Regions from separate parts of the Homo sapiens genome. Here region 2 is linked to region 1. Evidence: fine-mapped expression QTL. A gene starts in region 1. The other region holds a variant in brackets. All regions are shown on one strand. Distances are from middle to middle.

What was found.
Region 2: its variant is fine-mapped to the expression of SOCS2 in whole blood (TOPMed, PIP above 0.99).

Annotation. Positions count from the first base shown.
Region 1 is chr12:93,571,222-93,574,127 of GRCh38, reverse strand. It overlaps SOCS2 (suppressor of cytokine signaling 2), which reads right to left and starts at 1,453. Exons shown (of 2, transcript NM_001270471.2): 1 at 1,092-1,453. The coding sequence starts at 1,230. It overlaps SOCS2-AS1 (SOCS2 antisense RNA 1), which reads left to right and starts at 2,730. Exons shown (of 4, transcript NR_038263.1): 1 at 2,730-2,863. RefSeq lists an enhancer at 650-789 and silencers at 2,007-2,316, 2,327-2,376, 2,737-2,906.
Region 2 is chr12:93,741,092-93,743,997 of GRCh38, reverse strand. All of the region lies in intron 2 of CRADD (CARD and death domain containing adaptor protein), which reads right to left. Among named protein-coding and RNA genes, the nearest start is that of CRADD-AS1, 4.7 kb to the right of the region's middle. RefSeq lists silencers at 1,391-1,480, 1,511-1,680 and enhancers at 767-1,723, 1,724-2,680. The variant C/G (reference allele first, on the strand shown) is at 1,765.

The DNA.
Region 1 (2,906 bases):
GTACAATAGCTTCTGTTCGCTGCTTTATGACTACCTTACCAGTCACTAAGAAATGGGAATTCCCAAGTGATAATTACTACTTCAAGTTTACAATCTTCCCTAAACTCTTTTGAACTTTGCCCTAATCCAAACCCAATCACAACCATCCATCTCCCCTGCATTCTTGATTTCATCTGCCTGCACCATCTCCCCGGCCCACTCTGCTTTCTAAGAAGGCTCAGAGACCGTCCGTATTTAAGAAGTCTGAACATTTGTGCTCCCCCCACCCCCACAATTACCGGGATACTTGCAATCTGCCGGTGCCTCCCCGGGAGGGAAAGCCCGTGGCCCACACGGAAAGACCGGAATCGCAAGCGAGAGAACTTTTCCCTCTCCCTCCCCCTGTTGCTACCAAAATTTCAACTGTGCCACAACTGTAAGCTTTTAGGATACGGATTTGGAAAGCCAGAATGATTTGCCAGATACTTTACTTTTTTTCTTTTTTCTTTTTTCAGATGCCTAGAGACAGCGTGCCGCGCGAATTGCCTGACTGTACTTGAAAGCGGCAGTACCCTGGGCGCGCCGACCATGGAAGCCGCGCTCGGCGGGGGCTTCGCAGCCTACTCTCGACGCCCGGGCAGCCGCCCTCGCGGCAGTGTCAGTCCCTGAACTTGGCCGCCAAGATCCTGGGCTGCAGCCGCAGCTCCGCCCGGGAGCCAGATGCTGCTGGGCCTGCGGGGCCCGCGGCACCGACTTGCTGATTGCACCCCGTGCAAAGGGAGGCGCCCGACGCTTTCCCCGGCCGGGGTTCGAGCCCGGGAGCCTAACCCTGAGCAGCTGCGGAAAACAGTAAATCTTCCAGCGTGCTAAGAAGCTATTTCCAAGAAGCTCTTCCCGCGCTCTGCGCTCCGCCAGGCCTGAGTCCCTGGAGAACCACTTTCCTTACGCATTCCCAAGGACCCAGGACCCTGCGAGCGTGCTCTCCGCGGTCCCTTGGAAGCAAGGGACGTATTTCCATCTTATTCTTTGCTTCCCACCTCGACCCCGCTTCCTAGCTGCTTCCTTGGGGAGGCGCTCCCTCCCGCACGCGTCGCGGCCGATCGGCTCCCTACCTGTCTGACCGAGCTCCCGCAGGGCCTTCGCCAGACGCGCCGCCTGCGGGGATGGCTCCTCCGCCGACCCCGCGGTCCCCCACTGGCTCCGCGTCCCTTCCCCGCCATTCCCGGAGGGCTCAAGGCACCGCAGGGTCATGAGAGAAGGGTCACCGCGGCAAAGACAGGTGGCCGCCCGAGCTGGGGTCAGAGAAGGGTTCGCGTCCTTCCTTGAAGTCAGTGCGAATCCCAAAACGAGTCCCTGCGGGGTGTCCGAAATGGTGGCAGAGAGAGAAGGGATGGGGCTCTTTCTCCCCAGATCCTGGAGGACGGATGACAAAGTCCCTCGCAGCCGCGGTCACCCACTGATCGCCTACAAAGAGAAAGCGGGAGGTTGGGTCAGTCCAAACTGGACCCCTGCGGCTGGGGTGGGGGTGGGGAAATAGACGTGGAAAATCCCAGGGACTCCTCCGCCTCTACGTTCCTGCACCATTTAACCCCAAGCTTCCAGTTAGCGCCCTGGCCCAGCTCTAGAGAAAAGATAAAGAGAGCAGAGATCCAAGATAAAGTTGGCTGAAGAGGTGGGGGGCGGAGGTCAGGAGGAGGGTGAACAGGGTGTCTTCCCGCCCAGGGTCACTAGCTGAAATCAAAGACTGGCGACCTAGGAAGAGCAAATAGTCACCTGCAGATCCAGTGGGAATAGGCCCTTGTCAAGGACAAGTAGAAAAAATTAAAAAGGAAAGAACAGGAGAGATTCCCCAAATTGGCATTCCGGTCTCACACCTGGCGCAGCCCGAGGGCCCCCAGGAAGAAGCACCCACACAAACTTGGTTCTCCGCCCTAAAGCGCTGCGGGGCCCCGAGGCACCAACCCGGGGTGCGGAGGTGCGGGAGCTGCCGCATCTCCGCCCGGGAGGCTCCTCGCTCCCCTCCCCCCGCTTCCTGGTGCCCGCTCTGGCGGGGTTGGGGGTGCCGCGGCGGTCGCTCCCGGACCAGGATGGCTGCGGTGGTTCTCGCCGCCGCGGGCGCTGTCGAGGAATCGGCCCGAGCGCGCAGCCCTCGCGGGGCTCCGAGGCGAGGCCGGGGCCGAGCGGGCGGTCGCGAGCGCTGCGGAAAATGCAAACCACCAACGCCGCGCTCTTACCTCGACCTCGGCCGCGGCCGCCGCCGCCGCCTCCGCACCAGGCAGCCTCCTCAGCGGACATGGGGCGGGGGGGTGGGGGGAAAAGGGGAGGTGGGAGGGGCCCGGGAGAGGAGGGGCGTCTGCCCTTGTTTCCCCCGTTAACGTTTAATTTGGGAACGAGATGCCCGGGGATGCAACCAGCCCCGCGCTCGGAGGCGGCGGTCGGAGTTCCGTGCGCAGAGGGCACACAAAAGCCTCGAGGATCATTGCCTCGACCCCATCCCCCACCGCGCGGCGACGCCCCCTACGGGCTGGGACACCTCCACTCTCGGACTGCTGCCGGGTTTCCCTCCGGCTGCGACCCTGGAGGTGGGAAGGAGAGAGGGAGGGAGGGAGGAAGGAGCGAGGGCGGGAGGCAGGCCGGTGGGGAGGAGCGGGAGATCAGGTTATTAGGAGGATTATTAATTTGAATGGCAGTTTAGGGGAAATAAAAAAAAGAAACTCCAGACACTTCCAGACGCCGAGAAGGGGCTGGAGAAAGCAGGCAGCAACGCTAGGCCGCGGGGCAGAGCCGCGGTTCGGACTCTCTCTTCCCCGGCGCTCCGAGCTGCGGAAGCCCAGGCCGTCCGCCGCTCCCCGGCGCACGCGGCCGCGCCTCGCCGCCCTCCCCGGTAACTCTCCTCGGGGCGGAGCCTTCGGGCTTCCCCCACTACC
Region 2 (2,906 bases), 170 kb before region 1:
GAGTCTGTTAAACTCATTTATCTTTATTTAGTGATTTCAGCTAAAGCACAATAAATTACATAGAAACTAAAAATAAAATAGAAAACAAAACTACCATAACAGAGAACAGGATATAAGTGTGAAATAATCAAAGGAATTTTTAAAATAAAAAAAAATGTTGCTAACATAACATTTTATTGCATAATTTCAAGCACTACCTTGAAATTGGAAATTTTGCCATTGTTTCTAAACAATTCAAAAGAAGATGCATAAAGCAAGGATCTGGAGCCCAATATGTGATCATAGTTGCCCTGAATATAAGAAGAGAACACTCATCACGGTCTTCAAGCATGCACCACCCTCACTAAAATATATGAGTAAGAATAATTTTAGGCTTTTATTATTGAAGGGACAGTAAGAATAATTACACAGGGAATTCAGCTTACTATAAGGAATAATGTTCTATTCGAGACCAGCCTGGGCAACATGGCGAAACCAAATCTTTACTAAAAAATACAAAACTTAACCAGACGGTGACGAGGGCCTGTGGTCCCAGGTGCTGGGGAGGCTGAAGTGGGAGGATCGCTTAAGCCTAGGAGGTGGTGGTTGCAGTGAACTGAGTTGGACCCACTGCACTCCGGCCTGGATGACAGAGCAAGACCCTGTCTCAAACAAACAAACAAAAAGAAATAGCATCCTAGTAATTACGGCTCTCCAGCAATGGTATAGACTGCTTCGAAAAGCAGAAATGTTATAAAAAGATCCCTAGAATCCCATAGAAAAATTGGCCTAAAAAACCTCTATATTGTAACTCCAAAATTCTGATTCCATTAACTTAGTAACACAGGGAATACTGGCATTATCGGAGTACTAGTTAAGTTACTATTACTCTATACGCCACATTAATTCATTAAATTTAATATTAGGTATGCAGGACAATTGTCATAGCAACATAAATTATTAGCATTACAAGTTCCTAAACAGAAATATGCATAATACTAAAACGAAACTATTTTAAAGGGCAGACATTTATTTTTAATTCTGCAGGATTTCTTTTCAAAAGTGAACTTTGGTGTAGCCTCTGGTCTGGGGCGGAAGATGAGAATGGGAGGGCAGCCTGACCCCCCTCCTGATAAGGAAGGACCCAGCGCATAACCTGTTCAGGATCTGGAGCCGCACAAACACCTGACTCGCCCCTTCAAAACAAGATCCGCGGAATGGCTCGGGACACAACAAGAAATTGCCGGCAACCTGTGACGGCTCATTTTTACCGACAGTGGGAGGCGGGCAGTCGGAAGGAATGCCCATTTCTCCGGTGTTCCTTCCCAGAAGCAAAAGAACGTGTTTGTTTATGCAAGATTTACGTTTCACTCAGGTTTGGGTTGGGTTTGTTTCCTGGAGATGGAGCTGAGTTTCCCTGGTTTTGCTGGAGTGAGGACAAGCTGATCGCTCCGTATTTACCTTTCACTTGAGCCAAATTGGACAAATGCAAATAAACAGGTCTTGCAGGCGCCCCCCGGCAGTCGGCGCCGCCTCCCCGCGCTGGGCTGGGCAGCCGGGGCCCGCAGAGGCAGCCGGCGCCCTAGGGCGGCTGGGGCCGCGCGCCTCCCTGCCCCGCTGCGCGGCCCGCGGGTGCCCGGCCAAGCGCTGGCTTATCTGCAGCTCCCACAGCGCCCCCGCACTCACCAGTTCCTAGAGCAGGGATTCCGAGAAAAAAGAAAGAGCCGGGTTCCCTAGAAACATTAAATTAACACAAGGGATCTGGAAACAAAACAGCAGATGCCT[C/G]AAAGCCTTCTCCTTGACGGCTTCCTGCCTTCTTGGAAAATCTTTGCATTAAAATAGATTGAATTACCCTGCTCTGCCAGATGCTGCTCGGGAACTTCATTTTGGGCTAACATGAAAGGAGAGTTTGACATCTTTTAAAGGATTTTTCTTTTCGAGGTGGTTTGAGGGGCGCCTTTGGGTTGCTGACATTAGCAAGGACCCAAGGCTGAGCTTTTTGCATTACAGTCGAGAACTTTCCATAACAATGGCTAGCAAATCAGATAACAAAGATCATGGCGTGTAGAGGAGACGCGGTGGAGCATAGAATGAGCACTAAGGGTTCAGAAGCCGAGGTTGCTGTCTCTGGGAAGAGCCTAGAAAGAGCACAGGCCAGCCGCCTCCTTTTACAGGGGAGAAAATGTCTTTTATTTCTAAGCCTACTTATTTTGACCATAGCTATGAGAACTATCTAATGGCATTTCCAGAGAGTCACAAACAAGCAGAAAGGCTTGTGAGTAGTATTTTATCAGCCTCTTTGTTCTAAAGCCCATCGTCTAACCTCCACCGACCCCTATCTACAAATTAATCAGACCATATAATTTGTAAATTCAAACCCAGATTAATAACCACACACCTTGAACAGTGGGTCTTCAGCACAGAGTGTATTCCACTTTCCTGTCATGTTAACTTTCATATTTAAAGAATTTTGGTAGCTGAGAACAAGATCCAAAGCTTCCTATGAGGTATCAGGATTTTACAGAGTAAATTGTTTTTACTGGAGTAGGATCTTCTTTGACATTTTAACTTTTTTTCATGATAACCTTTAGGAAAGGACGCTATAATCCTTAGTCGCTAATTTATATGTGTCATGCTTTCTAGTAAACTGGAAAATAACCTACATTCTTAAAAGGATTCTATGCTTATCCCAAATTTAGGAGCACAAGATGGGGGAGAAGTATATTACAACAAGATACTCTAAACACAAATAAAATTAAATATCCTTGCCTAAGCATGAAAGCAATAAAACTCATCTTAAAGCAATGCAGTCAGACAAAATCATTGCATCTGTAATAAGGGTAAGTACACAACTCCGGGAGTTAGCAGCCCTAAATATTTCTGTTCTAATGACACACAAGAGATACACAAAATCTATCATTCCTCCC